4 linked regions of the Homo sapiens genome follow. The protein of the gene in region 2 purifies or fractionates together with the protein of the main gene of each other region. This does not show direct contact. Each region holds a gene or a part of one and is shown on either strand. Other genes may lie near its edges. The genes, in order: CAND2, ADORA3, TBC1D9B and ATP12A.

Evidence for each region.
Region 1: the proteins of ADORA3 (region 2) and CAND2 purify together in Homo sapiens (affinity purification with mass spectrometry, with the first as the bait; 2 studies listed by BioGRID). This does not show direct contact.
Region 3: the proteins of ADORA3 (region 2) and TBC1D9B purify together in Homo sapiens (affinity purification with mass spectrometry, with the first as the bait; 2 studies listed by BioGRID). This does not show direct contact.
Region 4: the proteins of ADORA3 (region 2) and ATP12A purify together in Homo sapiens (affinity purification with mass spectrometry, with the first as the bait; 2 studies listed by BioGRID). This does not show direct contact.

The regions. Positions count from the first base shown.
Region 1 is NC_000003.12:12,813,671-12,820,702, forward strand, and holds part of CAND2 (cullin-associated NEDD8-dissociated protein 2), read left to right. Parts: intron 1-1,470; coding exon 1,471-1,763; intron 1,764-2,196; coding exon 2,197-2,338; intron 2,339-2,703; coding exon 2,704-4,206; intron 4,207-6,415; coding exon 6,416-6,511; intron 6,512-7,032.
Region 2 is NC_000001.11:111,500,634-111,508,113, forward strand, and holds the start of ADORA3 (adenosine receptor A3), read right to left. Parts: upstream 3,001-7,480; 5' UTR 2,722-3,000; coding exon 2,372-2,721; intron 1-2,371. Other genes in the region: TMIGD3 (transmembrane and immunoglobulin domain containing 3), read right to left, coding at 2,372-2,721.
Region 3 is NC_000005.10:179,897,892-179,904,923, forward strand, and holds part of TBC1D9B (TBC1 domain family member 9B), read right to left. Parts: intron 6,922-7,032; coding exon 6,811-6,921; intron 1,417-6,810; coding exon 1,298-1,416; intron 1-1,297. UniProt on the Homo sapiens protein: May act as a GTPase-activating protein for Rab family protein(s).
Region 4 is NC_000013.11:24,690,406-24,697,437, reverse strand, and holds part of ATP12A (potassium-transporting ATPase alpha chain 2), read right to left. Parts: coding exon 6,966-7,032; intron 6,835-6,965; coding exon 6,717-6,834; intron 6,475-6,716; coding exon of another isoform or gene 6,457-6,474; coding exon 6,188-6,456; intron 5,010-6,187; coding exon 4,811-5,009; intron 4,652-4,810; coding exon 4,542-4,651; intron 2,995-4,541; coding exon 2,860-2,994; intron 1-2,859. UniProt on the Homo sapiens protein: The catalytic subunit of a H(+)/K(+) ATPase and/or Na(+)/K(+) ATPase pump which transports K(+) ions in exchange for Na(+) and/or H(+) ions across the apical membrane of epithelial cells.

The sequences.
Region 1 (7,032 bases), on a different chromosome or scaffold from region 2:
GGCCTGAGATAACACAACTAGGAATTGGCATAGCTGGGCCTTAGAGCCAGGTCTGTCAGGCTCCCCCACCTCTGCACTGCCACCGTGTACCCTTTTATGAATGGCTTTCAGGAGATAATGTCTTTAACCCAGCAGAGGAAAGCTCTGATGGTGGAATGGCAGGCACTGGCAGGGGAGCAAGATGTCTCAATGGGGGTGGACTTGATAGCTTCTTTCCTCCTATGCCTGTGGTCCTGTCTGTCATTCAGACAGATTTCCAGGGCAGAGATGCCCCTAGGCCTGAAGGCAGGGCATCGATGGAGACGATGGATTTAGAGCCTGATGGGGTACTTGGAACAAGATGGGATGGTAAATGAGATTGGACAGGCATGCGGGGGCCTTGAATGCCAAGCCAGGGAGGTGGGACACTTGTCAGTAATAGAGAGCTAAGGATGTGTGTTCGTGGGTGGCCTACTGTGGGGGTGACAGTGATCCATTAGAGGGGATGGCTGCTGAGCTGCCCGGTGGCCGTGGCCCACTGTGGCTGTCCAGACACCACCCTGTGGGTCCAAGTGGTCCACAGAGTGGTATGGGCAAGGCCATGCTGGGCTCTGAGCCTGTGCCTTGGGGTGCTCCCAGGCAAGACTGTCCCCCTCTGAGCCTCCTGTGTGCCTCCACAGGTGATAGGGCTGGGCCTCGTGGACCTGAATCTCAGCTCTGCTGTTCCTCGCTGTGTGCCCTGAGAGTCTCACCCGCTCTGAGTCTTAGTCTTATCGTCTGTAAAATGGAGCTTGGCAGTACCTTCACTTTTGAGGTGATGGTAAAGACTGCACGAGCCCTTGACTTTCAGGGAGATTGTCAGGTAGAAAGCCACACAAACCCAGCATTTCCTCTTTATTAATCCTGCCTGGAAGCCTTTGGAATCAGGACCCTTGAGAGGCAGAGATCGGGGGAGAGAAGAGGCCAAAGGGAGGCTCTGTCCCTTCTCCCTTCTGGAGTCCCAGTAAACGAAACATCACATAGCCAAACCTGATGCCAAAAGATGAGTTTTGTGCCCCAAATTGATTCTCCAAGTCTACATGAAGACTTGGAAGTCTGTTTTTTCCCTGGTACAGTCCAGACAATTAAGGGTCTGGAGGCAGAGGGGAGGACCCTAGTTTAACTCCAAGTATTTCCTTAACTTGGGGCAAGCCACTTCCTCTATCTAAACCCCAGTTTTCTCATCTCTATAATGGGGAAATAATCCCTGTCTCAAAAGGTCGTCATGAAGCTAAAATAAGATTATGGGTTTGACATGCTTAGCCCCATCCGTAGCACTCAGTAGATGCCCATTAAAAGGTAGGGAATGTTCCCCATAGGGTATCTATAAATGCTGATCATCAAAAAGTGAAGCACAGTGCCCAGCTCTCTCTCCTCCCTGTCCCTTCTCCCCCGAGCCACAGACCTGTCCTGGGAGATGAGGGTTCCACGTGTGTCTTGTTCCTGCCCCAGAGAGTGAAGACGAGTACAGCGATGACGATGACATGAGCTGGAAGGTGCGCCGGGCAGCTGCCAAGTGCATCGCAGCCTTGATCAGCTCGCGGCCTGACCTGCTGCCCGATTTCCACTGCACCCTGGCACCTGTGCTCATCCGCCGCTTCAAAGAACGCGAGGAGAACGTCAAGGCTGACGTCTTCACTGCTTACATCGTGCTGCTGCGGCAAACACAGCCCCCGAAGGGATGGCTGGAGGCCATGGAGGAACCCACCCAGACCGGCAGCAACCTCCATATGCTACGTGGACAGGTGGGCGTGCCTTCACCTCCACCCCTACCCCCGATTTGCCTACCCAGCCACTCACTGTTAGTGTCCCTGGACTTGGAAACTCAGCTGGGAGAACATCCAGCCATGGAAGGGAAGGGAAGGGGTCCCTGGGGTGGGGGGCGGGAGCCAGCCAGGCTTCTGGAGTGTAGTAGTGACAGCCAGCCTGCCTGAGTGAGCTTGAGCAAGTTGCTTGGTCTCTCTGTACCTGTAAAATGGACGCAGAAAATTTGCCTACTCTCCAAGGGTCTGTGTGCGGTCACCAAAAGCCTGGCACAGAGTGAGGGACGAGTGCTTGGGAGATATCTTGATGCCGACATCCTCCCTGGGGATGTGTCTGGCAAAGCCTCCTGGTAGTGGGCAGGTGGGTAGGTTTCTTGGGTGTTCCCTGACCTTGACTTCCCCCTCCTGCCCACAGGTGCCCCTTGTGGTCAAGGCCCTGCAGCGGCAGCTTAAAGATCGGAGCGTCAGAGCCCGCCAGGGATGCTTCAGCCTCCTCACCGAGCTGGCGGGTGTCCTCCCAGGCAGCCTGGCCGAGCATATGCCTGTGCTGGTATCAGGTAGGCTGGACTGCAACCAGGTATCTGCTGTTCTGGGCCACTTCCAGAACCCAGACCCCACCCCTGAGTTGAGCCCCCAGTTCCTGAGACAGTCTGAGACCCAATCCCAGGCTCAGTCCCTGGTCAAGAGTCTCCAGTGGCCTCCCACTACCAGCAGTGAGAACAAGGCTGGCTCCAGTGAGTTCCCTGGACATGTTTCCCTCAGCCCTGGCCACTGGTCAGGGCTGACTTCTTGGAAACTTCTGCAGAAGAGTTTAGGTGCTTCAGTCCAGCTCAGGCACTTGTAGGTACCCCAGCCTTGCTTCCAGGGAGGGCCGTGTTGCATCAGAGGCGGTGGCCTCATAACCTTTGCATTCACCCTGCAGGCATCATCTTCTCGCTGGCCGACCGCTCCAGCTCCTCCACCATCCGGATGGATGCCCTGGCCTTCTTGCAGGGGCTGCTGGGCACCGAACCAGCTGAGGCCTTCCACCCACACTTGCCTATCCTCCTGCCACCTGTGATGGCCTGTGTGGCTGACTCTTTCTACAAGATTGCAGCCGAGGCCCTGGTGGTGCTGCAGGAGCTGGTGCGGGCCCTGTGGCCGCTGCACAGGCCTCGGATGCTGGATCCTGAGCCATATGTTGGAGAGATGTCTGCTGTCACCCTGGCGCGACTTCGTGCCACTGACCTGGACCAGGAGGTGAAGGAGCGGGCCATTTCCTGCATGGGCCACCTTGTAGGCCACCTGGGTGACCGGCTTGGGGATGACCTGGAGCCCACGTTACTGCTCCTCCTGGACCGCCTGCGGAATGAGATCACCCGGCTGCCCGCCATCAAGGCGCTTACGCTGGTGGCCGTATCCCCACTACAGCTTGACCTACAGCCCATCCTGGCCGAGGCACTGCACATTCTGGCCTCATTCCTGCGGAAGAACCAGCGGGCTTTGCGACTGGCCACACTGGCAGCCCTGGACGCCCTGGCCCAGAGCCAGGGCCTCAGCCTCCCACCGTCTGCCGTGCAGGCCGTGCTGGCTGAGCTGCCTGCCCTGGTCAACGAGAGCGACATGCATGTGGCCCAGCTGGCTGTGGACTTCCTTGCCACAGTGACCCAGGCCCAGCCAGCCTCTTTGGTGGAGGTCAGTGGCCCTGTGCTCTCAGAGCTGCTGCGGCTGCTGCGTTCGCCCCTGTTGCCAGCCGGGGTTCTGGCAGCTGCTGAAGGCTTCCTGCAGGCCCTGGTAGGGACCCGTCCCCCGTGTGTGGACTATGCCAAACTCATCAGCCTGCTCACTGCGCCTGTTTATGAGCAGGCTGTGGATGGTGGGCCTGGCCTGCACAAGCAGGTGTTCCACTCATTGGCCCGGTGTGTGGCAGCCCTCTCAGCTGCCTGTCCCCAAGAGGCGGCAAGCACAGCCAGTCGCCTGGTCTGCGATGCCAGGTCGCCCCACTCCAGCACGGGGGTCAAGGTCCTGGCATTCTTGTCGCTGGCTGAGGTGGGTCAGGTGGCTGGGCCAGGCCACCAGCGGGAGCTGAAGGCGGTGCTCCTGGAAGCTTTGGGGTCACCCAGTGAGGATGTGAGGGCTGCAGCCTCGTATGCACTGGGCCGTGTGGGTGCTGGCAGCCTGCCCGACTTCCTGCCCTTCCTGCTGGAGCAGATCGAGGCTGAGCCCCGACGACAGTACCTGCTGCTGCACTCACTCAGGGAGGCCCTGGGGGCCGCCCAGCCTGACAGCCTGAAGCCCTACGCCGAGGACATCTGGGCCTTGCTGTTCCAGCGCTGCGAGGGTGCTGAGGAGGGCACCCGGGGGGTGGTGGCCGAGTGCATTGGGAAGCTGGTCCTTGTGAACCCTTCGTTCCTTCTGCCCCGCTTGCGGAAGCAGCTTGCTGCAGGTAGGCACACAGGTGTGGGCAAGGCAGCCCACCTCGGAGGTGGGCAGTTTGCCACTGAGCATCCAGGCAGCTGGGGCAGAGTGAGCTATTTCAAGTCACTGGATACAAGAATCACGGTATCTATACGACAGAGGCAAGGAAGCTACAGAGGAACACACAGTGATACCTGAGACTTAAAGCCTTCCTCCTATGGGACTGTGGGATAGAAGGGACAGAGTCCTTGATTGGTCCCTACAACAAATACATTTAAAAATCTCATGATGTTGGCTAGGCATGGTGGCACATGTCTGTAATCCCAGCACTTTGGGGAGGCTGAGGTGGGTGGATCACTTGAGCCTAGGAGTTTGAGACCAGCCTGGGCAACATGGTGAGACCCTGCCTCTACCAAAAAAAAAAACAAAACAAAAAACCTCATGATGCCAACTTCATAATCCTTGATGTGGACAGTAGCTTAGTGCTCCACACAGAGGTCAACAAAAACAGTTTTCCCAGTAGCCGTAGACTGCAGCCTGCAGAGGGTCAGCTCTTTCGGCTAGCCTGAGCCAAGAGCAGACGTCAGTATAGACGGGGACAGGCTGACATGCCCCCGAGGCTTGGAGAGGGCTGGGCAAGAACCAGGAGGGGCAGGCGTTTTGGCTTGTCGTGTTTTGGCACACCAGGTGTCTTAGCTTCAGGAGGTGGAAAGCAGACAGGTAGGGTCATCAGGCTCCTAGGAAAATGAGAGTTCCCAGAATGAAAGGCCAGTGGGCTTCGAGCTGGCCAGCTGGCCCCTTACAGAACCAGTGGATGCTCTGCTTGACAGAATGCAGGTACAGTGTTTGGTAACCTATGTGGTACCTACAGTAATTAATACTGAGTAAATCAAGAGCTGCTGTTGTTACTAGGTAGGTTAGTGATTTCAGTTAAGGCCTTCTTGGGTTGCTGGGTTCGTAAGAAGCAGTTGTCTGGCCTCAGGACTGGATGGAAGAACATTGTTGAGGACACTGTCTATTACATCACACAACCTTGAGAGACGAGAGTGTTAAGATGCAGAGGAGCCCTGCTTTGCCTAAACACCTATTTGTTTCTATCTCACGTGCACTGTTGAACCAGCCACCCGGTCACATTTCCTTTTTAGCACCAACTGCTGGGAAGCTTAGAGCCAGATGAGTGGTCTGCTTCTAGTAGGTTCCTGGGACTTCCTTATTGATGCTCTCTGTACATCTTCCTGCTAGTCTCCTTCTCACCTCCCTGCCTTCAGTCGTCCTTGGCCTTGTTCTTGTTTTCAGTTCACTTAATCTTACTCTCTTGTGCCTGTCTTCATCAGCCACCCTAAATCTTCCTGGGAGCCAGTCAGGCTGGCAAGGGAAAGAGGTAAAAGCTGAAAGTCTGAATTCAGTAACTCTTCCATTCATTCATGCCTTAGCACCAAATGGTAAACTTTTCCTCGAGGCTGAACATAAAGCCTGTGGGGTGGAAACACCTTAGCCCATTCACTGCATTGTGCTGGGGTTGGGCAGGGAGCAAAGGGGGCGAGCCACTGAGGAGAGATTCAGACGCAGGTGGAGCGTCCACCCATTCGTTTCCTTCATTAAGGGAATGTACTTCCCCTCTTTACTGGGCTTCTCTACTCAGAAAGCAAGCGGCAAAGCACAAGTAAGCAAGCTCTCTGTGACCGAGCCTGGAGGTGATCCGAGTTCTGTTAGGCCTCCCTGACCACCAGCCAGAACGCAGCCCCAGGAAGAGGGGCCCAGCCAGGAATTCTGGATCTGCTGTGTGGCCCTAGACATGAACTTAAACCCTCTGAGTCTCTCTTTCCTCATATGTCAAAGAGATGATTTTTATTGGTGATTTTATTGGTTCTTTTAATACTACTTTATTATTAATAGGATCATTGTTAGGACTCATTGAGATAACATGTCTGAAAAATCCCAAGGCCTGAGGGAAGGTCTTTGTTGGAGCAGTTCCTGTCTTGGTTATTGGTTCCCTGTTTGCAGCCTGTGGTGTTACCTGAGCACTGGCAGTCCTACTGTTTCAGCTGCAGCAGGAAGAATTGAGGGGAGATTCAAGGCTGCCAAGGGAAATGGTAGAATCCACTTTCCCAGAGATGGGGAGGGGGTACAGTTCTGTTTTCCAGGGAAGCAGGGGGAGGAGCCTAAGCACCTTCTGATCTGTGAGCCTCCAGGATTGGCCCCTGCCCCTCACTAACTCACCTCTTCTTGTCCTGCAGGTCGGCCACACACCCGGAGCACCGTCATCACAGCGGTCAAGTTCCTTATCTCGGACCAGCCCCATCCCATTGACCCCCTCCTGAAGAGCTTCATCGGTGAGCACCTACCTCTTGCCCCTCCACCTTGTTCAGTGCCCCCACCCAGTCCTTGAGCTTGGGCTGATGTTTACTACCCAATAGCCAAGGGCAATGGGAGACCCGGGAGGTGTGCCCATGATGGGCAGCAGGGCCTGGCCCTCCAGTTAAAAGGCCTGGGTTCACATCCCTGCCTTCCTACTGCCACTCAATCATGGGTGGGTGTGGCATGCCCATCACACCTCTAAGCCTCGCTTTCCTCATCTGTCAAATGGGCGTGAGAAACTCTTATTATCTGCATTTTCTAGAGTTGTCCTGGAAGCCCATGGGCAACTGAGGGAGAAGATGCTTCATCAACATATAGACTCTTGGGAATGGAAAACCACCAGCCTCTCACATGCCTTAGCTTTTGCGGGCCCCAAAGTGGGGCAGGGAAGAGTGCTCCCCCCGGCCCCGCCTGTCCACTAGATCGCCCTCTGTCTGAGGGGCCTTCTGGCCTGAGGAGCCCAAGCAGCCTTCACTGGGAGGAGAGGAACTGAGAC
Region 2 (7,480 bases):
GAGAGAGAGGTGAGATAAGGCATATACTCTCTTAATTCTCCAATCTTCTGCTAAGAGAGGGCAGCATTGATATCCTATGGTGATTCCAGCTAAACTCCACTGGATACGAAGACAAGATGAGCAGACAACGATTGGAGAAAAATCCAGGAAACTTCTCTGGGGACTTTTCTAAAGAAGAAAACTCTTGAATGGATAAGGAGGATGTTGCCTAGAGTCAAGTGCTTACGTGCTCCACTCAGGGCTCCACTTACTGAGAGCTATACAACTGTTACCTATCTTTTCTTTTTCTTTTTTTTTTTAACTCAAAAACATCCACAGGTGAATTCAGCAGTTTAAGTCCCCCTTGAACTCAGTTTACTCCTTCTGTTCCCAATAAGGTGTAAGCCTAAGAATTATTCAGTTCCTGGGAGCTGAGATTCATCTAAGTCTCCTAGGATTGTCTGCCTGGTGAGAAATGATATTCTCAAAGCAAGCTTGCCTGCTGTTCTTGGCACTGTTCTGTTTGGCTGTTGTGCAGATTCTCATAAATTATACTATGCCTCCCCGACACTTCCCCTCTACCTGTGCCTGCTCCTGCTTCTCTATCTTCATGGGCATCCATACTTGGTATTTGAGTTAAATGAATCAATGAAGTTACAAAATTGTATTGAAGTGTTTCAGAGACCTTAAAGGACAGTAAGAGTAAGAGTCCCCATTGCTCCTTAAACTGTCCTTCCTGACAGCAGCCTATACAGACCACAAAAAGGAAACAAATATAGTTAAGTATCAGTAGATTTTTATCTCAATTAAATCTCACAACAAACAGGAGATATTTTATTATAACCTCAATTTTATTGATGGCAATTGTGAAAATAATAGTAATGATAGCCACCATTTATTGAGCACAGACTGTGTGACAGGTATGTTTCTAAAAGCTTTACATATGTTAACGCATTTCATTTTATGAGGATAGTGCAATTATCCCCATTTTGTAGATTAAAAAGTGAAACACAAACAAGTAACTTCTACAAGTTAGAAGTGGTGGGGCTAAAACTAAAACAAGGTAAGTCTGAGTTCCGAGCATCGTAACCACTGTGATACAGAGTGGAAACCAAAGGAGATAAAGTTAAACAACTTGTTCAAGATCAGATCTCTAATCTGGGATTTGAACCTAGACTGTCTACATCTAAAGCTTGTTTGTAGCTCCCTCACTCTGCTCTTTCCTCCAGAGAAGTGACGAGAAACACGAGACCAATGCAATTTAGGTCACCCGGGGAAGTAGATTTCTCCATTTGGCAGTTCGTTCTATTCATATGGTCACATGTAATGAAGAATATTTTTACGAAAAAAGCTCTCACATCTCAGGAGGAGGAGGAAAAATATACATATATATAGGATATATATATTTATTATATTATATATAGGATATATATTTAATATAATAAATATATAGGATATATATATTATAATAAATATATATAGGAGATATATATTTAATATAATAAATATATAGGATATATATTTAATATAATAAATATATAGGATATATATTTATTATAATAAATATATAGGATATATATATTATAATAAATATATAGGATATATATTTATTATAATGAATATATAGGATATATTTATTATAATAAATATATAGGATATATATTCATTATAATAAATATATAGGATATATATTCATTATAATGAATATATATAGGATACATATATTTATTATAATGAATATATATAGGATACATATATTTATTATAATGAATATATATAGGATACATATATTTATTATAGTGAATATATATAGGATACATATATTTATTATAATGAATATATATAGGATACATATATTTATTATAATAAATATATATATATTGGAATATATATATATTCCAAGAATCCCTTTCTCAACATTGAAGTAGGCACAGAATAGGAAGCAAAGATAAAATAATAACCTACATTTGCAAAACAACAGAACCATCAGTTTATCTCCTCTTATGTTTATCTGCCTGCTTCTCCTAAAATAATAAGTCTTATCTAGTAGGCTTTTATCATTTCTAAAACTGAAGAGCATTTTTTACTAATTAAAGATGCATCAAGATTTCATCATTTTTAGCCAAGGATTAGTAATTACAGCTGGAGGGATTGAGCACCCACCCCTAGTCAGTGGAGAAAGGATTGGAGCATTCCTCTGATTCTAGCTCCTGAGTCCCAGCCCATTGTTGCTAACCCCCTCACAGACCATATCACAAAAAGACACTTATTGCCCTCTTTCAACATCAAGGGCCAATTTGGATACATTTTTACTCAAAAAGTCTGGGCTCTGGGCTTTGTAGCCTCATTTCCCAGCTGCCTCAATTGCTGCCCACCCCACGCCGCAGGCTACCTGACGGTAAGCTTGACCCGCAAGTATCGGTCCACAGCGATGGCCAGCAAGGACATGATGGAGGCGTGGGTAAAGATAAGCAGTAGGCAAGTCATAAAAAGGCAGCTGTAGAAGTGGATTGTGATGCCCAGGCTGACAACAATGGCCAAAGGCATGACCAGCACCCCAACAGCAATGTCAGCCAGGGCTAGAGAGACAATGAAATAGAAGGTGGTGGTCTGCAGGCTGGGGTTCAGCTTGACCACGCAGATGACCAGCACGTTGCCCACTATGGCGCAGAGTCCAATGAAAATTTCCATGGTGATGTAGGTAACATTGGCCAATGACAGAGCAGTGCTGTTGTTGGGCATCTTGCCTTCCCAGGGGAACCTCCACAGGGACAGGTGAGCCAGCAAGATCCGTCTGTAGGGCCAGTGGGCCTAGCTCTCGCCAGACGTCTTCCCAGAGGTCCATGTGCAGTGACAGTCTAAAATTCCCAACTTGCTCATTCCTACCCTTTTCTGGTGGGGTGATCTCTTGGAAACCCTTCTCCTTAGAAAGGGCTCATCACAGGTGGGTCACTTCCAGCCCCTTTATGCACCGCACATCCTCAAGTTTCCAGAATGCTGTAGGACAGCTCTATATGGACTGAATCTGAAAGTGCTGCTGCTCTTAGTTCCCCAAACAGATGTCCTCAACGCCTCTGCCTGCAGCTTTTTGGCTTTTTGAGTTCCATCAAGATAAGCAACCCTCTTCAGGGGTGTTTCAGGAAGTGAGATGGGCCAAGAGGAAGTACAGAGCTCAGAACTCTCAGCAAAAAGATGGAAAGAGCAGAAGAGGAGCCATGAGTGGCATAGAGAAGGCTCGAGACAAGATTGGGTATCAGAGTTCATTCATTCAGGGACCAGAGGACAGTGCAGGATCAGGTGGGAGCAGAGCTGGAAGCACTGACTATGCAATCTTTCTGCCAGCTTAGCAAAAAGATCTCATGATAAGGAGGCAAACGGGAGAAGCAGAGGAACAAAAAAGAGACTTTGGTGGCAGCCTCCTAACCTTAGCCAGAACTATTCCTGCTAAGTTCTTGCACGAGTTGACGCTTTGCTGAGCACAGCCGATACCCAGCCTTTGCAGCAAAGATCCTTGGTCAAAGGGATAAGCAAAGATTCCCTGCTCAGAAGGGCAAAAACTCAGCACCTCTGAGAAGCATCACACCTGCTTAGCCTCCACCTCTCTTTCTCAGCTCACACCCTAGCAAAATCACACTGGCACTTATGCTGGCAGCCGGCCAATGTCCAACCTATGTGAGGAACGACAGAATAGCAGAATGACCAGACATACAGAAAGAAGGGAAAAGAACGTGTGCAACAGAATCAAATGGCATATCCTCCTGCCCACATTCCCCAAGCCTCAGCCCCATCCCCGCAGGAACAGGCGACTGTCTGGGAATCAGCCCCCTCTCCCTGAAGCTGCTTACCTAGTCACCAACTTCTGGGAACCAGACACTTGCACGCCATTGTTATTTGGGGACCCACTTGGTTCAGGTGCTTCTCAGCACCATCCAAAGGGATTATTTTAACCAGGCGTGTTAGAGAGGCAGCAAGAAGGAACACTTGGACCCAAACCCACACAGTGGCTTGAGGGCTTTATCATTTTTACCTTAAGCATCTAAATATGTACAGCCCAAAATAAAATTCAGCAGTAACAACAATGGCGTTCTGGTGTTTACTAACAAACACTTCAGAGTGGGGCATAAGGGAGACGCCTCTGCCTGGGGCTCATCAGGGTCCTCTTGTTAGTTGATCTGCTCTGGCATCATTCATTGATTCCACTCCCGACCCCCACCCTGTATCCCAAGTTGATCCAAGTCTTACCAAATCCCATACTTGTCCCCGCCAGACTTGTCATTTCTCCCTGAGCAGACTCCCCAGACATTAAAAAGGGCAGTCCTCTCCAACTGAATTTCCATCATTCTAGTATTTTCCAATGTCAGTTCTGCCCACATCCCTGCACTGCTGGAACTTGAAAAGCTTCATCGGCCTCCAATGTGTCCCTCATAAATGTTTCTACTGTAATTGTTTTCTTTATCTGTGCTTCAGAGAAGGAAGTTACCAAGAGAAATTTCTAGGAGGCAGCACTCTGCCAAAAAAAAAAAAAAAAAAAAAAAAGAAGCCTTTCTCACTATATAGCACTCTTTGAACCTTAGTTAAATACTGCAAAAAACCCTCCCTCCCCTACCCCAGTACATAGGTGAGTTCTTTTGGAATCAGTCCATCTCAGCTGGGTCAGAGAAACCAAGGAAAGGGGTTTGTGTCCAAACACAGCATGCTGTAGGCAAGATACCACATGAAAGAATAACCCACTAGAGAGAATAAAGGCAGGAGACACACTTAGGGTCACCAGCCCAGCCACCTCTGCCCATCTGGGAATTCTACCCTCAGAATTCTCTGCACATACCATGGGGGTTTCTTTTCTGTGAACAAGAGAAGCCCTTCCTTCATGTTCTCTGAATAGACAAGGTCCATCAGTGCTGGGTGGGGTGATTTGAGAACAGAGGAGAAGGACTTTCACAGTCACTTAACATTTTGGCCTGGAACCTGACCGTAGATTGAAAACCAAAAGGCAATCTGGGAAAGAGGACAGAGAGGCTGGGGCAGAAGGTCACTTCATTTGCCCATTCCTACCGCTGCACCCACAGCCCATGGCGCACAGCCACTCTTGGTCATGTGCCTCATCACATCTCAAGTAGGAGATGCTGCAGCCTCCTACTCGGTGCCTCAGGCAACCAGAGGAACCACGCCAGAGCTCCATGCCCAGGATGACCCCTGCCCCTTCTAAACCATTTGGTCTGCACATTGCCTTAGGATCAAGTCCAGACTCCTTAGAGTGGCTTATACCCTTCTGATGGGTCTCCCAGCCTCTGCAGTCTCCTGTCACCTGGGTCCGCACAGACACCATTGGCTGCACCAGACTGAGCAACTCGTGGCTCAGAGTCATTCTCTTTCACTTCCTCTCCCCTGTGCACACACTCTTTGTCTGGTTTGCAGGGCCCTTCTCCCCCAAGTCCATCTAGAAAACAAATACTTTTCCTCCAAGACTGTTACCCAACAGGACCTTGAAGAAAACTTCCCAGTCTTCACCTCTCCTCTGGGACCACACTGTGCTGTGTGTATATGACTTCCCCGCTTAGCCTGTAAGTTCCTGGAGGACAGGGACCACCACTTTCCATTTCTGCATTTCTCGCCCCTACTATGATGCCTGGCAGATCATGGGTGCTCAGTACATTTTTGATGAATGAATAGGAAAGCACTTCAGTGAATCAGGTGGCATAAACTAGGCATTGGGTATATAAGGAAACAATAAATCAGCGAGGACTCTTAAGTGCTCTGCATCATACCAACTACTCAGTGTTAAGCAGCTTCTATTCACAGACTCATTCAATGCTCTCGAATGAAATAGATACTACCATTATGCTGAGCAAGTTGAGACTCTGCGGGGTTAAATAACTTGCCCAAAGTTGTAAGCTAGGCAGTGGCGAAGCCAGCATTCAAACCCAGGCTTCTGCTTCGGAGCCCAGGTTCCGAATGGCAGCCCTCAGTAAGTAAATGAGCAAATAAACTCTACAAACCTTTCAAAAGTACAAGGAGTCCCTGGGTTTGATGTTGCCATGCTATCAAAATCAGTAGAGATCAGTATTCTCAGATCTAAAAAAGAAAGTAGCCACCAAGACTATGGGCACAAAGCACAAGTATAATGTAGATTTGGCAACTGCTCTGAGCTAGGAAGAGATGGCAGGACCAGAGAGATGACTGCATGAGCAGGTCGCTGGTAAGGCTGGGGCCCCAAGGTGAGCTCTGGGCCAGAAAGGAAACCATTTTTATTGGATCAAGGTACAATTTTTTTCTTAAAAACAAAAAATATATATATATATATTATATATATATATACACACACACACATATATATACACACACATATATATATACACACACACACATATACATATATATACATATATACACACACATATGTGTGTGTGTGTGTGTGTGTGTGTGTGTGTATATATATATATATATATATGTTAACTGTAGTTAACTGTGGTTCAGGAGAATTTCCCACCTAAAAGAAAGGCCATGGCTGTTTTCAATTTTACTAGAAGAGGCTGGGTGTGGTGGCTCAGCCTGCAACCTTAGCACTTTGGGAGGCTGAGGTGAGAGGATTGCTTGAGGCCAGGAGCTCAAGACCAACCTGGCCAACATACTGAGACCCCACCTCTATTTTTTTTTTAATTAAAAATAAATTTTAAAATTCTACTAAAAGAACCTGAACTCCATCAGGGAAGCAAAGATCTAGGAGAAACCATTGGCTTAAATCACAGGAAGAGTGACTGGAGGGGAAAGGCCTCACCTGTCCCAAACCCTGGCCTGGGGCCTACTTGGGTCTGATGCCACTGGGCACAGCTCAACCACAAGGCTGCAACCTTGCCCTTGGGGTTCCGCTTAATAATCTGAGAGGCTGGCAGCAGAGATGATTCATCTGATCCTTTGCAGCTTCTCAGAAAACCCTAAAAAACCCCAGTTGCCAGCCTACAAAAACAGCAAGATGCAGTGTTAGCAGGAGCCCAGGGAAAAGGCCTCTGGAGCCCTAGAGCTGGTCCACGGGCAGCTAAGACCGGATGTCAGGCAGGCGAAAGGTGGGGCTTCTGCCCAAGGCTGTCTCCCACCCCACGGCTGTCTGCAGAGTTGCACAAAATCAGCTTGCTCACTTCCTCTTGGCCCCATCACCACTTCCCCAAAGCCTTACATTTTTATAGAGCTTCATGTTTGCTAGCCGACAGCTGAGGCTTAGAAAAGACAAGTGCTCAGGGTCAGCCCTGAAGGTGGCGCTTCCTAGGCCCCTCCCCCACCACTCTCCGGGCTCTGCCTCTCCATCAAGCCCCGGGGGTCAGGCTGGGCTTTCCCGCGCCGGGGGCTGATCTGGAGCCTCTGTCCACACGGGCCTTCTAACCAGGGCCCAGCCACTGAGGCCAATCCAAGGAGCCCAAGACTCACAGGCTGTAGTCTGAGCACAAGGAGTTTCACTCCATGCCAGTGTTGGTGGGAGGGAGGGTGAGGCCTGGAAAGGGAGGTCAAG
Region 3 (7,032 bases), on a different chromosome or scaffold from region 2:
GCTTAGGAAGTTCTGGTATCAGGAATTCACATGGGCCTGCCCAAAGCAACTTTGCACCACACGACTTTGACCTGGTAAGAGCCCTCCCATGAATCTAACTTAAGGCAATAACCTAACAGAAAGAAAAAGACATATACATTCAGGCCAGGTGCGGTGGCTGATGCCTGTAATCCCATAACTTTGGGAGGCCAAGGTGGGTGGATCACTTAAGGTCAGGAGTTTGAGACTAGCCTGGCCAACATGGCAAAACCCCATCTCTACTTTTTTTTTTTTTTTTTGAGACGAAGTCTCATTCTGTCGCCTGGGCTGGAGTGCAGTGGCATCATCTTGGCTCACTGCAAACTCTGCTTCCCGGGTTTATGCCATTCTCCTGCCTCAGCCTCCCGATTAGCTGGAACTACAGGTGCCCACCACCACGCCCGGCTAATTTTTTTTGTATTTTTAGTAGAGACAGGGTTTCACTGTGTTAGCCAGGATGGTCGCGATCTCCTAACCTCGTGATCTGCCTGTCTTGGCCTCCCAAAGTGCTGGGATTACAGGCCTGAGCCACCGCACCTGGCCTTTTTTTTTTAATTGAGATGGAGTCTCACTCTGTCACCTAGGCTGGTGTGCAGTGGCACGATCTCAGCTCACTGCAACCTCGGCCTCCTGGGTTCAAGCAATTCTCCTGTCTCAGCCTCTTGAGTAGCTGGGATTACAGGCGCGTGCCACCATGCCTGGCTAATTTTTGTATTTTTAGTAGAGATGGGGTTTTGCCACGTTGGCCAGGCTGCTCTTGAACTCCTGACCTCAGATGATCCACCCACCTCGGCCTCCCATAGTGCTGGGATTATAGGTGTGGGCCACCACACCTGGCCCTTTAAACTGTATATTCTGCATATATGAATACACTGTAGGGTAAACGCCAAGAATGGAATTTTTGGGTAAAGGGCATGTGTCTTTTAAAATAACGTTAGTTTTATTATAAAAAACAACTCAAAATATCCAATTGTTTCCAGCATCTCTTCTGGCAAACAGAACCGTCTATCTGCGTACGCCTTCCAAGGCACTTGGGTAGGAATGGAAGCCCCGCACTAGGCTTCAGCAGCCTCCAGTGCCCACCCAGGGTAAGAAGGGGTTTTCCTGGGTCACGAGTTCCTCTGCCCCTTTCAACTCCAAGAGAAGGAGCGCTGACACTTCAGTCTCCACCTTTGTAAAATGGGGACGCACCCTACATCGTGAAGATGAAATAGGATAATACACGAGAACACTGCTGGCCAGGGAAGGGTGAGAACAGAGAGTGGCGGGTAAACCTTACGTGTATCTTGCCCTTGACGAAGGTGGTGATATCTTCCTCACTGTCGAAGATGGACAGTGTCTGGAGCAAGTTATTTTCCAGCCATTCCCAGTGTTTTGTGATCTCTTTGCGGGAAGAACCTAGAAGAGGTTTGGTAAAGTAAAAGAAAAATCATGAATTCCCCAGGCCTTAAACGCACATTCAAAGAAGCGAGATGAAAGTGGGTGACCTCATTTGCTAAATCTAAGTGACCAGAATCTTCAAGCTGCTTTTCCCTCTTAAGCTGATGGATATGTGCATAACAAAGTAATAAATGGTCCTGGTAAAAAAACAAAAAATTAAACGTCCAGGCTGAATCACAGTCGTGTGGGAGAGAATGTTTCCACCTGTCCCTGAAGCCAACAGGGAGAGTCACTAAGTCTCCTATGTGTCCTAGAAATAGTCTGTGTGCCTGCAAGCTTGCTAACTTACACTTTTCCTCAAGTTGAAAGAACTTAATGTGGCTTTTGCTATGTAGGTGATTAATCAGACACAGTCATACTTTGTATAAATGAGTCCAGCTCTTTCCTGAGCATCTAGGTATCCACAGATAAGCAGCCGGAGCTTCCTACAAGACTCCAGGCCCCTGGCCAGCGAGGCTCCTGCTGGGCAGGCGAGTAGCTACTGTCCCTCTCTTCAGTTTCTCCTGGCCACCTTCTTACCTTGTGTCTGCCCCACCTAGGAGGGAGGGGGTCCCTGTCCTCCATAGGCCCAACGGAAATTAAAAAAAATGTAGAGAAAATCTGGGCGCCGTGTCTCATGCCTGTAATCCCAGCACTTTGGGAGGCTGAGGCAGGAGGGTCATTTGAGCCCAGGAGTTCGAGATCAGCCCGGGCAGCATGGCGAAACCAAAAATACAAAAAATTAGCTGGGCGTGGTGGCATGCACCTGTGGTCCCAGCCACTCAGGATGCTGAGGTGGGAGGATTGCTTGAGCCTGGGAGGCGGAGGCTACAGTGCAGCCTGAGTGACAAAGTGAGACCTCGTCTCAAAAAACAAAACAACACACAAAACAAAAACGTAGAGAAGGCAGCACGATGCCACTTTCAAAGGCTGGAAGAATTGTTTGCTCCCATTAAGGAATCGGGGAAGAAGCCCCGGGGGAAGAGCAAAGGGATGAGGGGAGATCTCTGCCTGGCCTGGCTCCCCTACCCCCAGCACCTGTTTCTGGGGTTTTGCCTGTACTGAATGAACACAAGGATGAGGAGTGAATGACACCCTGAATCATTCTCAGCTGTCCGGGGGTGGGACAGGAGGCCCACCCACCAGGCATGAAGACAGCCTCAGCCAAGACATGGCAGATTCTCGTTATTCAGGTGGTCAGATTCTGTAAGGTGGCCGCGAACACTGAGTTAGCGAATCCTGAACCAGTACCCTGGGGGAACACAGGGTTAGGTTCCTGGAGCCTCTAATCACACTCTTGTCGACTGACCGATACATAACTGTTTTACATGTTTCTGTTTAAAGATGCCTTATTTAATACGTATCCCTGATCGATTGGCATTGAGCTCACGGCCAGCAGCACTATCACTCACGCCTGAAAGAAGCTGCTCGCATGCACGGATCTCCTTCACAAGGCACAACTCAGCCTTCTTGCTCTTAGGAACAAGAGCACTACGGCACTATGCTCGGGAGGCCAGTGTGACTGTGAACCAGACGTCTCTGCTGGCACGCCTGCCCCGACCACCTTCCTTCCCTCCCTGACCAGGCTCTTCTGCCAGCTGGAGACAGCTCTGACCCTCCCTCCAGGCCAGGCTGGGCCTGTCACCTGCTCCAGCCCGTGGCACCCGCTCAAGGCTGTGTCACAGCCCGGCTGTTCTGCTTGGGACTGATTTGTTTGCTTTGTCAAATCTCCTCAAGCAGACCCTGACCTAAGAAGCAAGGCCACAGGATAGATCCTCCCGATTGGCCTGGGGGAGGATGCCCACGGGAAAACGATTCCACCCAGAATCACACAGCTTGCAGTGAGTCACAAAAGGCCCCCAGAATTACTCCTGGAAGCCCCTTAAGTCATCCATAATTCACTTTAAACTTTTTTTTTCATTTTTCTTTGCATTTCTATTACAGCCTCCTTTCCCTGATGCACAGAGGCCAAGGCCTAGTTGGTAGGTAGAGATTTCTTTTTCGGTTTCTTTGCCAGGAACCCACAGTTGAATTTGGAAGTCAAATTTACATGTGGTGCAACTCTACTGTATTATTTTCTGTTACACATAACATTCCTAGAAAACTAAAACAGAAGAAATCTCCTCCTCGCTGCCTGTGTGGATGTGTCAGCACTTTAATTAAAAATATTTATAGGCCGGGCACAGTGGCTCAGTCCTATAATCCCAGCACTCTGGGAGGCTGAGGCAGGGGAATCGCTTGAGCCCAGGAGTTTGAGATCAGTCTGGGCAACATGGCTGTCTCTACAAAAAATAGAAAAAATGAGGCATGGTTGCGTGGGCCTGCAGTCCCAGCTAGTCAGGAGGCTGAGGTGGGAGGATCGCTTTAGCCAGAGAGCTGCAGTGAGCTGTGATTGCACCACGGCACTCCAGCCTGGGCAACAGAAAGAGAACGCCTCAAAAAAACATTTCTTTTTTTACATATGTGCATTAAAAATATTAGTTAAAAGTAACTCAATCTTCATTTCATACTAAGAAACTATTCCATCTCTATGCTAGGTGCTGGGAATAAAAATAATATAATAGCTAATTAGAGTATTAAATGCTGTTTCTGTTTTCAGAGTTTTCCATGGATTATCTTATTTCATTCTCAGAACACAGTGGAGACAGGTACCATTATTTTCATTTTACCAGATGAAGCTGAGGCACAGAGAGGTGAAATAAGTTACCCAAGGTCACACAGCTGGGAAGTGATCAAATCAGAATCCTAACCCTGGGTGCCTGGCTGCAGAGCCTGCCCTCACCCTCGGAAGCTCCCGGCCTCATGGGCTTCCACGTAAAAGCGTGTGCAGACACGTCATGTCCAGAGGAGTAAGGAGGAAGGATGGGTCTGTGGAGTCTGGGCAGTTCTCAGAGGAGCGGGAGGGAAGGTTAGCTGGCATGGCGGACACTAGGCACAGCAGCCAGGAGGGGTGTGGCTCCTCCAGGCCCTGCAGCTGTGTGGTCCGGCTGAAGGCCAGGCTGTGAGCTGGGGAGACAAGGCCAGAAATGGAGGCAGGCAGACCCCCAGGTGTCCTCGAACACCAGGCTCAAGGGTCAGGACTCACTAAGCAGGTGCTGGCAGGGCCATGTCTGGTCTTGGTGAGTTGCTTCTGGGGCCTAGCCTGGCTGGCAGGAAAGGGAGGCACAGCCAGGGCCAGTGCAGGGCTTTGGGCCTGGCAGGAGGGGAGAGGTCAAGTGTGTGGCACGGGGCTACGTACATGGGCTCCGCTGCGTGGCTGTGGCTGGGCCCCTCCCCAGCACCAGGCCTGCTGTGACTAAAGGGATTCCCACTCTGCCCCTCGTACTTTTCTCTCCCCAGGGACGGGCAGCTCTTGCTGCCAGAGATGGAAATCTCAAGGGCCCATGTTAAAGCAGCTCCTCTCCTCATTAGCACACACCAACCTCCTGGCCCACTCAGAAATGGTCCCCTCCCCACAGGAAGCCCCTCCTCTGGCAAACTCTTGCTGCCCCCAGGGTCCACTCAGGCTCTGAAGCCAGAGATCGGGGGTCTAACTGGGCTTCCCTGCTTGGCCTTGGACAAACTCCCCTTCCTAACTCTTACTGAGTTATTCAGTCCTGCAAAGGAGAAGGGCACTGCTGGTCAGGATGCCCGTGCAGAGCGCCCACCTGGGAGTGGGGCTATTCCCGGGGTGCCGCCCGCCCTGTGCTTTTACTTCCTTGACCCTTCCCCTCCTGAAGCTGGGTTCCAGCCGTGAGGTTGACAAACTTTTGAGTCTCATCATCTTCTCCCAGGCCTTCAAGGGAAACCACTACCCTGGAGAACAAGGGCACTGTGGCTTCTGCTTCAGAGAGGTACTGAGAGGGTCCAAACTGCAGCTGTGTGACTCTGAGCAGGTTACTCAACCCCTCTGGGCCAGAGTTTCTTCACCTTCAACATAGAGAAGACCAAAGTACTTATGCCTTCTGGAGGTACCGGGTGGTTCAGGCAAGTGCCTGGCACACAGGAAGCACTGTCTGAGCGTCAGCTAGGACTGTCATTTTCTCAGAGCAAACTCAACCCAGCAGGTACCCGCTGAAAGGGGACTTCCCTCCGCACTCTTGGACGGGTGAGTGCGCTTCCACCTAGGAGGACAACTACAGCGGATTCTCGTTATTCAGGTGGTCAGATTCTGTAAGGTGGCCGCGAACACTGAGTTAGCGAATCCTGAACCAGTACCCCGGGGGAACACAGGGTTAGGTTCCTGGAGCCTCTAATCACACTTCTGTCGACTGACCGATACATAACTGTTTTACATGTGTTTCTGTTTAAAGATGCCTTATTTAATACGTATTCCTGATCGATTGGCATTGAGCTCACGGCCAGCAGCACTATCACTCACGCCTGAATGAAGCTGCTCTCATGCACAGATCTCCTTCACAAGGCACAACTCAGCCTTCTTGCTCTTAGGAACAAGAGCGCTATGCTTGGGAGCCATTTTAAACAGCCAAGTCATCAGCAACGAGCACAAACATGGGAAAAACATGGCACTGCAGAGACTGTGAACAGGACACGTGAGTGCAGTATGAGAGCTGAATCAAGAAGGCAGAGCGTCGTCCTGTTCTGCCTCAGCTGGGGACATGGGCATCAGGCGAGTCAAATTTTTCACTGCTTTGAACGTGCATGTGTCCATGAGTGTCTCCAAATGACCACAAAATCGCTGGAAGTATTGATTTGGGGATTGCAAATACATTTTATTGAGTAGGCCAATTTGCAAATATGGAATCTTTGAATGAGGCCGACTACGTCTACCTTGAGAAAAGGTGGCATGAGAATGTGGACATTGGCTAGCCCCACACCTGCGTCCCTAGAGGTACATGGGGATCCATGGGGCTGTCCTCTCCTGCCCTGTCCCCATGACCAGTGGAGCTGCCTTTTTTTTTTTTTTTTTTTTTTGAGACGGAATCTCGCTGTGTCGCCCAGGCTGGAGTGCAGTGGCGCGATCTCGGCTCACTGCAAGCTCCGCCTCCCGGGTTCACGCCATTCTCCTGCCTCAGCCTCCCGAGTAGCTGGGACTACAGGCCTCCGCCACCACCCCCAGCTAATTTTTTGTGTTTTTTAGTAGAGACGTGGTTTCACCGTGTTAGCCAGGATGGTCTCGATCTCCTGACCTCGTGATCAGCCCGCCTCGGCCTCCCAAAGTGCTGGGATTACAGACGTGAGCCACCGCACCGGGCCACGGAGCTGCCTTTCTAAGATGGAAGCGAAGGCTCCTCCACTTCCCTCTTGCAGCCTTGGGCTATGCTGTCAGCAGGGAATACCACCCAGACACGTGGGCTACACACCCCTTCCTCTCGGCAACGGCCCTTCCAGGGCAGGCCCTGCCCAGCACCCCTCACCACTCAGGGCACCTACCACACGCCACTGTCCAGTAGACCTGGGAGTCCTGGGTCTGGTGCAGGATGCGGTAAGGGGCCACGCGGGCACTGGAGTCCAGCACCACGTCCAGGGTGCCCACGAGAAGACCTGGGAACAGGGCAGAGAGACATAGAGGGTGAGGGGAGGGCCGGACTGAGGCCCCTGAAGGCTGAGTCTGGCCGGAGGCAGACAGGATGGTGACGCTACCCAAAGGGTCCA
Region 4 (7,032 bases), on a different chromosome or scaffold from region 2:
GGTCTTGAACTCCTGGGCTCAAGCAATCTGCCTTCTTCGATCTCCCAAAGTGCTGTGATTACAGGTGTGAGCCACTGTACCTGGCCAAGATAAGGCTTTTTACATTTAAAACATAGGGATAATATGAAACACTTTTATGGTATGTACCACGTGCCAGGCACTGTTCTAAGTGCTGTCCACATCGACTTATTTATTCTCAAAACAACTTTAAGGCCATGGGTACTATTATTATTCCCTTTTACAAAGGAGGAAACTGAGGCACAGAGGTTCAATGCTTCACTCAGGGTCACTGAGCAATAGGTGGCTATCTGGTGGCTGAGCTGGGATTTGAGCCCAGGCTAGCAGGCTCCAGAGTCCCTGCCCTTAATCATGGTGGCTACAAAGGATAATCTTTTAAATTAAATACATTCATCTTTATATAAAACTTTATAAAACATTTTCCAATTTGCCGTAAACTGTTTCAAATGTCTTAACAGACCAGTGTGTTTGGGGCATCACCATTCTAATCAATAAGACACAGGCTTTCCATTTTATTTCCTTCCCGCAGAGACGTCTCCTTCCAAGGCCATGACATCTAAAGCCCTGGTGAGGCTGAGCACCGCTCATGTGTAGATATAAAATGACCCTAACAGCATCCAGACAGCACCTCCGACCTCTTCAGCAGGAACTCACACAGCCCCTCTCCCCTTTCTTTTTTTTTTTTTTTTTTTTTTTTTTTTGAGACGGAGTCTCGCTCTGTCGCCCAGGCCGGACTGCGGACTGCAGTGGCGCAATCTCGGCTCACTGCAAGCTCCGCTTCCCGGGTTCACGCCATTCTCCTGCCTCAGCCTCCCGAGTAGCTGGGACTACAGGCGCCCGCCACCGCGCCCGGCTAATTTTTTGTATTTTTTTTTTTAGTAGAGACGGGGTTTCACCTTGTTAGCCAGGATGGTCTCGATCTCCTGACCTCATGATCCACCCGCCTCGGCCTCCCAAAGTGCTGGGATTACAGGCGTGAGCCACCGCGCCCGGCCCCCCTCTCCCCTTTCTAGTCCCACTCTGTGTAGCCACTTTCTCCTCCAACTTGTACATGAGGCCTCATGGAACCTGCTTTTTCTCCCTTTTGCAACTGGGCATGCCTTTACCTTGGGAGATGGAGCTTCAGCAGGGCTCCAAGTCCTGCTGCTGATGGAGGCATCATCTAACCCCATCTTCACACTGTGCACTGATGCGCGGCACCTCAACCTCCTCATCCTCTAGCCACCCCACAGTGTTGTCGTGCGAATGAATAATTTAATACTTGTGGAAATTAGCACAGAATAGCTCCTATTATCACTAGTATTATTAGTATAATAATACTCATCCTAAAACAGTCTTTTAGGACTGTTGCGCACTCTATTTTCACTTTGGTTTTACGTAAGAGATGTGGTTTCTTGGCTTGAGTATTTTACATCATATGTTTCTGGTTAGTTGTCTATTTAGCTAACTGTGATTCTCTGTTGGCTCACTATCCACAAAGAAGACATTTGCAACACAAGAGTTCTTCTCTAGGCTGGGCTTGGTGGCTCACGCCTGTAATCCCAGCACTTTGGGAGGCCAAGGCGGATAGATCACCGGAGGTCAGGAGTTCGAGGCCAGCCCAGCCAACAAGGTGAAACCCTGTCTCTACTAAAAATACAAAAAAATTAGCTGGGCAGGGGGTGCATTCCTGTAGTCCCAGCTACTCAGGAGGCTGAGGCAAGAGAATTGCTTATACCTGGGAGGCGGAGGTTGCAGTGAGCCGAGATCGTGCCACTGCATTCCAGCCTGGGTGACAAGAGTGAAACTCCTTCTCAAAAAAAAAAAAAAAAAAAAAAAAGAGTTCTTCCCTAACCCTAAATTCCATCCGAACTAAGACAGGTGGATAATCACCAGAAATCTCCACACGTACAGTTGTGGTTATTCCATTTCTATACTTTACTGTTGTGCAAAGCCCAAGTCCAGATCCAGTGTGGGCTCTGTGGAAAATCCCATCTGCATGGGGACCTGGGGCTCCCAACTGTCATTTGTCTTAACATGGGGAGGCTGTGATGGCTGACTGTCGGCCAGCCCTGCTTGCTGAGATAACCAGGCAAGGAAGGCCGTCTTCTACCTGAGCAGGGGATGGAAAGGAGACCCCCACCCACAGCACAGGGGCTGGCCCCAGAAAACGACGGGGCTGTCACCCCAGGGGCTGCTCACCGGTCTCCCCAAAGGGCAGGGCTTGCTCCCATGGCCTGAACTGTGCCGCACTCCCTCTGTGTGATGGTGGAAGAATCGTGGACCTGGTGTCAGGCTTGGGAACACTGGGTGCTGTGTGACTCTGGTCTCTCAACACTTTCTAAGGGCCTGCTTCCTCCTCTGAGTCAGGATTCGTCAGTCCTACCTCACAGGCCGGATGCGAACATGGAACAAGGCCACGTAGGTCGAGGGCCTGATGCACTAGAGGTGAGAGGAGCAGGTGTTCGGCCTCCCTGCTGCCCACCTGGCATTTATGCTTTGGAGTATGGCTGCTGCTCCTCACGGCAGAAGGTACCTGATAGTGGTGGTGTGAGTGTGTGTGTGTGTGTGTGTGTGTGAGAGAGAGAGAGTGTGTGCCTGTGACAGAGATGGCTCATTCATAGGAGCAGCCAGGCCCTGATGAAGTCCTTGCCTTTCTTTCTTTCTCTGCCCTGCTTCAGGGTTAGGAAGGAGGCCAGCAAGGGAGCTTGACCTAGGGGACCAGATGCCTGGGTGCTGTATCCCTGACGACTGTCTTTGAAGCCAGGTATCCTTCAAAATATGAGGTAAGCAAAGGATGCATGCAAGTAGAAAGGTCATGCTGCCGATGACAGAGATTACCGGTTGTGAGGAAAAACTCACCTGAAATTTATTAGTAGAGTTAAAAGGGATTTCAGCTACTTTGCGGTTTCTTTTTCTAATTTCCATCACATCACCCAAAATGACCTCTGAGAATTTTAAAAGAGCAGTTTCTGAGGCATCTCCAATCACAGCTTTCTGGGAATCAAAGAAGAAAAATATTTGCAGCACATATTTAATGAACCAACATGCCCTCAGCATAGGACCCAAAACACACCCTCCTGATCCCATTACCACCTAGCTGGAGAGACATTATCACGTGATCAGGGAGGGCCGCAAGACCGTGGTAAGCGTGTAAACAACAGTGCCACCTACTGGCATTAGGGATGTTTGGAGAAGCTGGACCTCTGCGAGGACTGAAGATTTCGTGGAAAAAAGCAGCTACGAACTAGATCTTGATAGATAGGTGGGTTACCGATACACAGAGAAGAAAGCCTTCCAGAAACCAGGATGCGGGTGCAGGGGCATGAGGGGCAGGCTCGTCCGTGAGTGTTCAAGGTACAAGCGGATGTGGAGGGTGTGGCAAGACCTGGAGGGCCCTGAAAGGTAGCCTGAGGTCTAGACTTGAGAAGCAGAAAACAGGGAAGTACGGAGAGATTTTGAGCAAAGTTAAGTGACTATAAAAGCACCATTAAGGGAAATTAGTGGCATTCGAGAAAGACCCCAGGAGGGATAAACCGGAATCAAAGAGGTTTAATTCCAATCAGCCGGTAATCGGCTATTTAGATGCAAGGTACTGCTGACAAATACTAAAGTTATGTATATTTTGAAGCAAGAATGATAGAACTTGGTGGCTTACTGGATATAAGGAAAGGATAAAGTCAAAGATGACTTCCAAATATTCTGTTCCAATGACAAATAGAATGGTTATATCATAGACAATTAGAAAATTGCGGCAAGGCACTGATGTGCAGCCAGGCTGGGTACGGGTGGAAGTTAACAAGCATGATTTGTGCAACTTCCTAGCGGAAGCACACAGCCAGCCAGAGATTCGGGTTGGAGTTGAGGTAAGAAATTAGAGCTGGACATAAAGATTTGGAAGATATCGACAAAGAAGCAATTGGCCAAAAAGAGCATTCATGAGCTGTCTGACGGAGAGAAAAGCAAACAAACAAACAAAAAAATAAGAAAGAAAAAGAGTCAGGGAAGGAAACAGATGGCAAATAGAAAAGCCAGGAGAACAGGGATTCAGTGACTCATTGAGATGGAGAGGAAAAGGGAGGAAGGGAAGGAGGAGAGGGAGGGAGGGGGAGAGTTTATTGTATGTTCCGATATTCCAGGACCCCTTAGAGCTTTGTCTGCAGCCATATTCTAGTTAACAGGAGTCCTTTTATTTTTATTCAATCACACTTTAAATTTCCATGAATGGTGTGTATATTAAAAGGAACTTTGATTATATCCACTTAGCTGGCAGAAAAGTCAGGAAAGTAACTTAGAAGTGCATTCATTTCCAGAATTTTCTGAAGACGCTAAAGCAATATTCTGAAACCTTTTAAGCATCTTTGTATTCTCAAAGCTAGTGTGCATAAAGAAAAATTTCTGGATGTCTTGTGAGTCTGACTTGCTCTTGCAAGCACTGAACAAACTTTAAGCAACTGGAGAGATGAAATCAAGCACCCAATCAGACCTCAGCAAGTGACTACAAACTGGCTGTGATTTAAGACCAAGTGCTGCAGAAGCATTACCTTCATGATGGGGACATTTTCCTGTCCTGGCTTGAACTCTGCTCGGTTACACAATGTTATTATCTTGGATAAGGAGGCCCAAGTCCTAGAGCTTTGGTCAAAGACTTGGTCTGGAAGACAGAGAAAGAACAGTGGCTGCTGTGGGTTGGGCTGGCCGTCCATGAGTCACTGTCCAGCAATCCTCTGGCTGCAGACCCTGCTGTGTGCTCAGCTCAGCCCCAGGATGGAGTCCACAGCTTTGGCCAGACCGAGCTCTCCATAAGACTTACTTGAATGGTCCTCACTGGTGTCAGCCACAAAGATCTGATTGTCGAACCACAGATGGGCCACTGTCATCCTGTTCTGGGTCAGTGTCCCAGTCTTGTCCGAGCAGATGATGGAGGTGGAGCCGAGGGTCTCCACAGCCTCCAGGTTCTTCACCAGGCAGTTCTTCTTGGCCATCCGTTTTGCTGTCAGCGACAGGGTCACCTAGCAGGAGAGGGAAGGACGCTTTGGGAAAAATCCTCATTTGAACTCAGGTCCAATAATACAGAAATAGCCAATGTGAGCTGTGATTGAATTTTAGGAGAGAGCTGGACTAGTTTTAGGGGAGAGGTGTGGTTGTCAGCGCAGCTAAGCTGACCTGGTGGCTTATACGCCGCCAAGAGCCCTCTATGCCACAATCCTTTTTTAAAGATTAAATATGAGATGCTTTTCTTGTTCCTTCATGACTTGAAGAAAACAAGGGACCCACGGGCAGCAAACACGGACACGCTGCTGTGGCTCGTGTTCACGTACAATCACGACGCCTCCTGTGATCCCTAAGCAGGAGTGTGTAAGAGAGACTGACCAGTGCATGCCAAAGAGTTGTCCCAAAGGACACACTTGTTGCTTTGGGGAATTCAGCAGCCTTTATGTTGTTTCATTTTAAAAGCTCCATATTTTAAAGATTCTTTTAAACCCCTAGATCTCAAAGGGTTCTTTTGGCTCCAATTTCCCCAAATTACTATCTCCTGGAGTCAGAGGAGACCTGGACTTCAAAAACTTCTTCTCTTTTCTTTGGTCAGGACAATAGCAGGCCAATGATCATGTAGTCACAAAACTGGAAACATAAACCCCCTCCTCTCCTACCCCTTGAGACCCCCACAGGAGAGACTGAGGAGGAGGGGGCTCTTCTCTAGGGACTGAATGACATGGGCCCATACAAACAGCTGGGTCTGGGGTTGGCCAGGAAAGGGCTGGAGTCCTCGGCAGGAAAAATGGGAGGAATTTTTTTTTTTCGTAAGAGAGGTAAGTGGAGTGTGGCAATGTGCCTAAATGCCTAAGTTGTAGAAACTGCCAAAGAAATGTGCGGAAGGCATCAAGCTTCTAGAAAACCTGTGAATGGTGGAGTCTGTCTTATCTAGATCTTATGGGGCAGAGTAAGCTGTGTGAATTGCAGATTGAAAGCATAACGTTTTCAAGGAAAACGCAGTCAAATATTGAAAATATGACAAATTTTTTGTCTCTGTAAGGAACAGTCTATGCAGAATGTTCCAGGGTTGTCGCTGGCGGGGAGGGCGTGGTGCTCTGGACTTGGGGGAGATTGCAGTTTGTGTGGGCGCCTCCCCAGCACCAGTGCTGTGTCCACAGGGCCAGGTGCAGGCTGTCTAACAGCATGGACTCACAGTGACAGTGGCCAGGAGGCCCTCGGGCACATTGGCCACAATGATGCCAATGAGGAAGATGATGGAGTCCAGGACTTGATACTTCAGGGACACAGCGATGATGAAGAAAAGGATGCCGATGGAGACAGCCACTCCTGCCACAATGTGAACAAAGTGCTCGATCTCAATGGCAATGGGCGTCTTCTCATTTCCAACTCCTGAGGCCAATGAGGCAATATGGCCAATGATGGTGCGGTCACCCGTGTTGATAACCATGCCGGTGACAGTGCCTACAGGGGAAGTAGATGCTTTATTCCAGGGGTCCTCAGCCAGGAGGGGTGTGCAGCCAGCTTGCAGCCCTCTCTGGGGGCTGGCACAATCGATAGGCACACCACATTCCCAAGGCCAAGCATCGTCCTCTAGGCCCTTCAGTTCCATGCTTCCTCTGGGATGAGCTTTGTAACGGGGTGTGGCAAAGGACAGACCTGAGAGCCCAGGAGGGAGAAAGGACACAGGTGGACATGTGGGCTGAGAGCCAGAGGCCTTTTACCTTCCAGACACGTTGTGGAATAGAAGCAGATGTTCTTTGTTTCCAGGGGGTTTTCATGGGTAAACTCAGAGGAGCGGGGCTGGGGCTCAGACTCCCCCGTGAGAGATGAGTTATCCACCTAGAAGAAATGTTGAAGGTGGTTCACAGCTGGGTACCTCATTCCCTGCCTCTTATACTGATGCTGGGAAAGACCCCAGAGCCAGCAGGTTTGGAACATGGTCCTTGGGGTGGATACCCCTTGCCGCTTACCCGACACCCCTGAGAAGACAGCACCCTGATGTCTGCAGGGATCTGGTCTCCTCCTTTGACCTCCACA